Homo sapiens: one gene and its partner. The protein of the gene in region 1 interacts with the protein of each later gene in a biochemical or structural test. Each region holds a gene or a part of one and is shown in the gene's direction. Other genes may lie near its edges.

The links. Proteins that work in one complex are often made in the same cells at the same time.
Region 2: the proteins of NR2F2 (region 1) and BCL11A form a complex in vitro, tested with the Homo sapiens proteins (one study listed by BioGRID).

Annotation. Positions count from the first base shown.
Region 1 is NC_000015.10:96,329,549-96,333,499, forward strand, and holds the start of NR2F2 (COUP transcription factor 2), read left to right. Parts: upstream 1-1,151; 5' UTR 1,152-2,557; coding exon 2,558-2,999; intron 3,000-3,016; exon of another isoform or gene 3,017-3,073; intron 3,074-3,712; exon of another isoform or gene 3,713-3,759; intron 3,760-3,951. UniProt on the Homo sapiens protein: Ligand-activated transcription factor. Activated by high concentrations of 9-cis-retinoic acid and all-trans-retinoic acid, but not by dexamethasone, cortisol or progesterone (in vitro). Regulation of the apolipoprotein A-I gene transcription.
Region 2 is NC_000002.12:60,543,655-60,547,154, reverse strand, and holds part of BCL11A (BCL11 transcription factor A), read left to right. Parts: intron 1-854; coding exon 855-1,184; intron 1,185-3,500. UniProt on the Homo sapiens protein: Transcription factor. Associated with the BAF SWI/SNF chromatin remodeling complex. Binds to the 5'-TGACCA-3' sequence motif in regulatory regions of target genes, including a distal promoter of the HBG1 hemoglobin subunit gamma-1 gene.

The DNA of each region.
Region 1 (3,951 bases):
AGGAACAATGAAGTCCGTACTCAACTGTTCTATGACCTAGAAGCATAGTCGGTGAAGTCTTTGTCTGTGTACATTGACAAATGTGCATCTGATACATGTGCGCTTACATGTGTGTACAGAGGGTGTGCACAGGGGAGGCTGGGCGGCTGCCTCCTCCTGTCCATCAGTGGGCAGAGGTCTTTCCCCTCTCACCATGACTGGGTGTGTGGCAGGATGTTGGCTGGAGAGTTAGCTAAAACCAGCGAGAGAGGGTAAAGTTGAGGAAAATTGATTCTAATTGCATCATGACAATCAGATGAAGTCTATTTCTGCTTCTCAGCATCCGAGATGCTTTATTTGGGCAATTAAAATGTCAGGCCACATACCTGTGAAATGTTAACCCTACAAGGAATAAACAGAAACAGAACGGCCTTTATCCTCTGAAAAGAATATATGTCATATATATATGTCACCAAACCGAACAAGTGATCAGAGTTAATTAAGAGAAGGGTTTGCCATCACCCGGATCTGGCCAACTCTTTCGTTTGGAAAATGCCTACAAGCTCAGTTCGTGGCACCTTCCCACCCTCACTCCCTATCCCTCTGCAAAGAAACCAGGGAACTTTTCTTTGGCATTGTGGGTACTAAGATGCGCCAGGAGTCCCGGGTGGTGCGCGAGCGGCGGAATTCGTGACATCGCCAAGTTGCGAGAGGCAAACTCCCCGATTCCATCCAAAGCCTCTCGCGGAGCCTTTAAGAGACGTTGTGTGTGCGCGCTGCGCTAGTCTCCCCGCCGGGGCGGAAACCTCGGGTGCGGGATGTGGGGAGAGCAGAGGCAGCGCTCGCAGGGCCAGCACGGGCCCATCCCCCTCTCGGCGGCGGCGGCGGCGGCGGCGCGGCCACCCCGTCCCCGCCCCCCCAACCCCCGGTCCCCCGCGTGCCCCGCGCCGCGCCGGCGACGCCGCTCGCGCTAGGACCGGGCTGCGCCCGCGGCCGCCATGGCGGGGCCGCCGCAGTCCGGCCAATGACGGCGAGGGGGCGGCGCGCGCGCGCCTGGCCAGGCCAACCCCGGCTGCTGCCTTATAAGGCGCGCCGTCGCCATGGCAACGTGCGCTAAGTTGCAGCAGTCGTGTCAAAGTTCACTATATAGAGAGCTCAGTGAGCTGATCGCGGAGAAGCCACTTCTGCCAGCCCCGGCGCCTATAAATCGCATTCCCTCCCGCGCCCCCCTTTTTAGCATATTTGATCACTTTGATTCTCTGTTCTTTTCTCTCCGCGGTGTGTGTGTGCGTGCGCGCGTGTGTGTTTTCTTCTTCTCCTCCTCCTCTCCCCGAGTTGCCTCCTTTCTCCGGGTGCCGTACTGCCTTTTTTCCCCTCTTTCATTCTTTCTCTCCGTCTTTTTCTCCCCCCTCTGCGCACGAAGGATGTGCTTCTAGGTGGTGATCTGCCCTCCTCTCTCTCTTTTATCATTTCTCCCCCGCCGCCGGCGAGTTGACTCTTTCCCTATGTGTGTGAGGCGGCGGCGGCAGCAGCAGCAGCAGCGGCTCCGGCGGCGGCAGCAGCGGCAGCAGCGACTTCAGCGGCGGCGGCGGCGCTAGACGCAGCGGCTCCGGGCCCGACCCGGCGGCTTCGGCGGCGGCTCCGGCGGCAGCGGCGGCCCGGGCGGCCCGCAGGGAACGGCGAGCGGCCTCCACCCAGCGACTGCGGGCGGCGGCGGCCGGAGAGAGCGAGGCGCGCGCCGGACGCCCGGGGCAGGCGGCGGCGGCGGCGGCCCAGCGCCAGGACGACGCCGCGCAGCGCCCGACGCGGACCACTTTCATGCTGATTCCCCCGGACCCGGGCAGCGCTCCGGCCACTCCGCGGGCCGCCGGCCTCCGCCCCGGCCTGCCTGGCTCCCTGGGCGCGCCCGCACCCGGCGCCTCCGATCTCCTAGTCCTCCTGATTTCGATGGCTTTCCTGAATGGCTGACTGTGGGCTGCCCTGGACTTGGCCCCCGGACAGTCGCCTCTCCTCCTCCTCTACCTCCTCCTTCACCACCACCTCCTCTTCCTCCTCCTCCTCCTCCTCCTCCTCCGCCAACTCCTCGGCTGCACACCAGCTCTAAGAGCGAGAGTGAACGAGAGAGGGAGGGAGAGAGTGAGAGCGAGCGAGATCTTTGGAGAGATTTTTTTTTTTGCCTCCTACTTCTGTCTTGAAGCCAGACAATCGACTTCAGCTCTCCCTCCCCTCCCTCTTTCTCCACGTTCTGCTCCCACTCGCTCTCCTGTCCCCTTCCCCTCCCCTCCCGGCGGAAAGCCCCCCGAAACCAACAAAGCTGAGCCGAGAGAAACAAACAAAACAAACACACCGGGCCAGACAAGCCATCGACAAAACTTTGCAAAAGCAAAAACAAAAAAGGAAAAACTAACCAACCTCAACCAACCAGCCCCCGAGCCACCCGGGGCGCCCTCCCGCGCCCTCTTGCACCCTCGCACACACAAAAGGCGGCGCGCCGGAGCCCGAGACCCGGGGAGCCGCCGCCGCCCCGCCGCCGCCCGCAGCCAGGGGAGCAGGAAGTCCGGACGCAGCCCCCATAGATATGGCAATGGTAGTCAGCACGTGGCGCGACCCCCAGGACGAGGTGCCCGGCTCACAGGGCAGCCAGGCCTCGCAGGCGCCGCCCGTGCCCGGCCCGCCGCCCGGCGCCCCGCACACGCCACAGACGCCCGGCCAAGGGGGCCCAGCCAGCACGCCAGCCCAGACGGCGGCCGGTGGCCAGGGCGGCCCTGGCGGCCCGGGTAGCGACAAGCAGCAGCAGCAGCAACACATCGAGTGCGTGGTGTGCGGAGACAAGTCGAGCGGCAAGCACTACGGCCAGTTCACGTGCGAGGGCTGCAAGAGCTTCTTCAAGCGCAGCGTGCGGAGGAACCTGAGCTACACGTGCCGCGCCAACCGGAACTGTCCCATCGACCAGCACCATCGCAACCAGTGCCAGTACTGCCGCCTCAAAAAGTGCCTCAAAGTGGGCATGAGACGGGAAGGTATCGGCCTCTCATTTCTCCTTCCCTCGTCCTGGGTCCCGGGGTCCTGGGTACGTTTGGCTAGCCTGCTCTGGGTAAGGACAAGAAGCCCCAAGCTCTTCTCTTCGTATTGCAGCGGAAAAGGGTTTTATACTAGAAGCGAGTTCTGCATTGGAACCCAGACCCCAAATCCGCATGCTTTGGCCGACTGATTTCCTTCTTTACTCTCTCTTTGGGCTGTTTCCATTTCCTTTGCATTGATTGTGAGTTCACTGGAGTCTGCCTTTCTGCAAGGGATGGGGTGTTTGTTGTTGTTGTTTTAAAGCCTAGTTTACTTCTCTCTCTCTGCCCTTGTTTTTCCTGCATGTTCAACATGTCCCTCCCCCTCACCCCTTTCCCCAGCCCCCACCCTCTCAAAAAAAAAAAAAAAAAAACCTGAGATTGTACTTTTGTACAGGAGGTTCAAATTACAAATGGCAATTTTATGCACTTCGCCGTATTAACGCTGCCGCCCGGGCAGCGCTCATGTGACCCTCCGTGGATTAACATCCTGCTAAAAAAAAAAATACCTCTGCTTTCTTTTTTCCTTTCACTTTTTGAAACGAAGAGAGCGCGATAGGAAGTAGGAAAGGGTGGGCGAGGGGCCCTGGGCGGCTGCTTTCGCTCTGCGCGAGTTGGGTCTTTGTGATATAAAATTCGCCGAGCGCCGCGAGCCGTGCTTTGCCAATGGCGCGCTCGGCGCGGGGCGCGGGCTCCGGGTTGGGGCGAGCCAACGCCGGGGTTTCTTTGTGTTTCTGCGAGAGCGACTCTCCCGGTCCGGAGTCAGATAACAGCCTGGGCCCGAGCCTCGCCGGCTTTCCCCGGCCCTTACAGGCCCTGCCCAGGCTCCGCTAGTGCCGGCCGCCTGCTCCCTGCCTCTCCCGGCTTCCTCTCTCTTTAGCCGGCCTCTCTCTCTCCGCCCTCTCCCTCCGTC
Region 2 (3,500 bases), on another chromosome or scaffold:
AAACATGTTTAGAATATTATAGGCATTCCATTTCTCAGAATAAAAAAAAAATGACTAATTGGCTTATTTTCTTAAGTACTCAAAAGTATCCCATTTAGCTAATGTGTCTGAGAAATACTGCCCGTGCATTTGGTATTTCTTTGATTTTGTGGCACTGCTGAGAGTGAGAGCAGAAAGGTTTTTGGCAGTGTGAATTATGCTGCGACATGATTATTATTTAGATCCGTTTCATAGGTGCATGCAGTCGTTTTCTTATTACAGCAGTGTAAATGTGGCACATTTTTCATGTGACATAGTAGCTTTCTAATTTATGAAGCCATGTCTGTTTACTTAGGAGTATATACATTCACACACAAAGGGTGTGTGTGTTTATTCACCTCTCCTTTCATTCTTTGGCACAATGGACAACTTGGTGTATAGGAAAAAAGAAACAAATTTGGTTTCTATCCACTTTTTTTTTTAACCAGTTTTTCTTGTAGTTATTATTTAAGCTTTCTTTATGTTCCCTGTGTTAACTATTTAAGTAGCATTCTTTCTAAACTTACAAACCAGACACATTTGTTGCTGTGGGTGTGTGCATGGGTATATGTGTGTGTGTGTGTTCTCTGGAGTTATGCAAGGAAGACTGTTTTCTTTACATATGTGATGATTTGCCTCATTGACAAATTTGCTCTCTGGTTGATAACCTTCACATCCTTGTACTTTTTGTATGCTCACATTTTCTGGGTATTATATAGAGAAGCCTAGAAACACTTTACATGATGTGGTGGGATGGCATGGGGTTGAGATGTGCTTCTCCCCTTTCTGTCCTCTCTGGCACTCTAATAATTGTGCTTTTGTTTCTCCAACCACAGCCGAGCCTCTTGAAGCCATTCTTACAGATGATGAACCAGACCACGGCCCGTTGGGAGCTCCAGAAGGGGATCATGACCTCCTCACCTGTGGGCAGTGCCAGATGAACTTCCCATTGGGGGACATTCTTATTTTTATCGAGCACAAACGGAAACAATGCAATGGCAGCCTCTGCTTAGAAAAAGCTGTGGATAAGCCACCTTCCCCTTCACCAATCGAGATGAAAAAAGCATCCAATCCCGTGGAGGTTGGCATCCAGGTCACGCCAGAGGATGACGATTGTTTATCAACGTCATCTAGAGGAATTTGCCCCAAACAGGAACACATAGCAGGTAAATGAGAAGCAAGGAGAAAAGCTGTTTGCATGTTTTCTTTTCATTTTCAGAGGTGCTGTAGCCAAGCAGTAAGGAGTTGTGAAGTGCTTTCTCTATTACTCTATGTGACTGTCCATGACAGCCCTGTAATGTTAAAATAATCATTTCTGTTGCTTACGTCCAGAACACAGAAAAATAAATATTTTCCACCTCACTGAATCAGATGTAGGCAGGATAGGTACACACATCAGACACCTTCTCTCTGGATCTGTCGATTTTGGATTTCTTTTCTTCCCCATCCCCACCTTCTCATTTTGAAGTATTGAGCTTTACTACACCTAGTCCAGCTTCCATTGTCCATTTCCAGCCTTGGTGACGTGTCAGAGGCAAAGTGGCCATATAGGCATTTGCAGTTCAGCCAATGACTTGTTTGACTCAGAACATCTGGCCAGGCCTCCTTAGGGGTTCAGCTCGTTCTCAAGGCTTCCCTGAAGTAGAGTGGGCTGGCAGGGTAGTTGGAGGTGGTGGAAAGAGTTAACTGAGCTTCAGGGCTAGCCTTGGATCCATATTGGCTGTCAGCCCGGATGGGGCTGTAATTAAACACAGCCCCGTGGTGGGATGACACCATGACCTTGACTTTAAGATGCCATTTTCGACTGGCCAGGCCAGAGTAGAGAGGGCAGTTGCTGAAGCGCACAGACATGCTTACTCGAAAAGTTTAAGGGCATGTTGGAAATTTCAAAAGGTTGGTTTGACAGGAACGGCTGCTCCCTGCAGCCTGCCTCCTCAGCTAAATGATAAATGCTTCTCTGTGCTCTCTCTTGTCTCTGATGTGGTTTTGACAGATGTATCTTGATTTTGTTTGTGGTTTACACAGCCACATGTCACCCTTACAAATGTCCAGTCCAGACTCCACTGTTTCTGCTATAACACAATGTAAAAATTTTCTTGGAAAAATACACACACGTATTCAACAGCCCTCCCTCCTTTGGTTAATTTTAGCAGGGAGGCAGCTAGGTGTGTGGGTTTCTCGGCAGCTCAAGGGAAAAGGAATTAAAGGCTAGCAGTGGGACTTAAATTCCCTTCTCTAAGTGATAAACAGTAACACTATATAGTGACCCTCAAAACATTTTTTGCTTGAGCATGTTAGACAAAAGTCAATGCAGATTCTGTGATGACAGACATGCCATGCCTGTTGGTGGATCGCTTTCTTCCATCTACCTACCACCCAGCTCCCGAAAGGCAAGAGGTTTGTTCAGTTTTAGGAAAGGTAGTGCATATCATGAATTGATTCACTGGAACTTGTCTCTCCGACCTAGTTTGACCACAAAGTTGAACCATAATAGGTCAGTGGTCTAGAGGGGATTAAATGTCATATTATTTCTCCTCTCCCCCTCTAGAATTTGATCATTAAAACCAAACATGGCATTTTCTTTCTTTTTTTAGTGCTTTCTGTGATAGCACTCAGATACTTTCCCTTTAGTGAAATGGGAAATCTGCTGCTAGGGAAGCTGCATTTGTGGAGTGTATTTCTTGAATCCACCACATTTACCTTATGTGACATGTAGGTGAAGATTTTATCTCCCCTACCCCCCAGCAGGATGTGGGAATGACCATTTCCATGTGTTGTCTTGTGACTGGAAGGAAAATGAACAGAAGTGTAAGGCATGATTAATGAAGCAAGAGCAGGCGGAAGGGGATTTGTCGTCTTCGGAGATCCAAAGCCTTGCTAAATCACCAAATATGGAGTAACACTTGCGTGATGTAACATCGTATTTACATATCGAGCTGCTCGTTTAAAAGACAAAACACAGTGTCTGTCAAGCAAGAATTAAAACCACACTTCTTACTGAGGTCCCAAATAGGTTATTCAGTCTTAGATTAACCAGCTCAAAAATTCTGTGCCTCTGTATTTAGAGGAGGAATCTAAATGCTGGGGGGAAGGCCTTACATATAGTTAAGACTTTTACTGCTATAGTTGTGAATCTATGTAGGGAAATAAGAGATATTTGCTTGAACTCCCTGGTTGTCTAAAGGTTCTGTTATTATTTTTTTAAAGAACAAGTATAATAGCAGAGCCTAGAGAAGCCAAAACCAAAAGCAAATTTAAAATATATTTTATAGCGCTAATAATCAATCATTTAACTGAGACGAAAAGCTCTCTAAGATGTCTAAGATATTCAATGGGCGCACAACAAGTGCTGTGACCCAGGTGAGGTAAACCTTTCGTGCATGAATAATTACAAAGTCTTGATTTCTTTCATTGTGTTTAATCACCTGTTCCCACCCTGGAACTGGCTGAACATAAATAGTGTGGTCACATCTCAAAGTGAG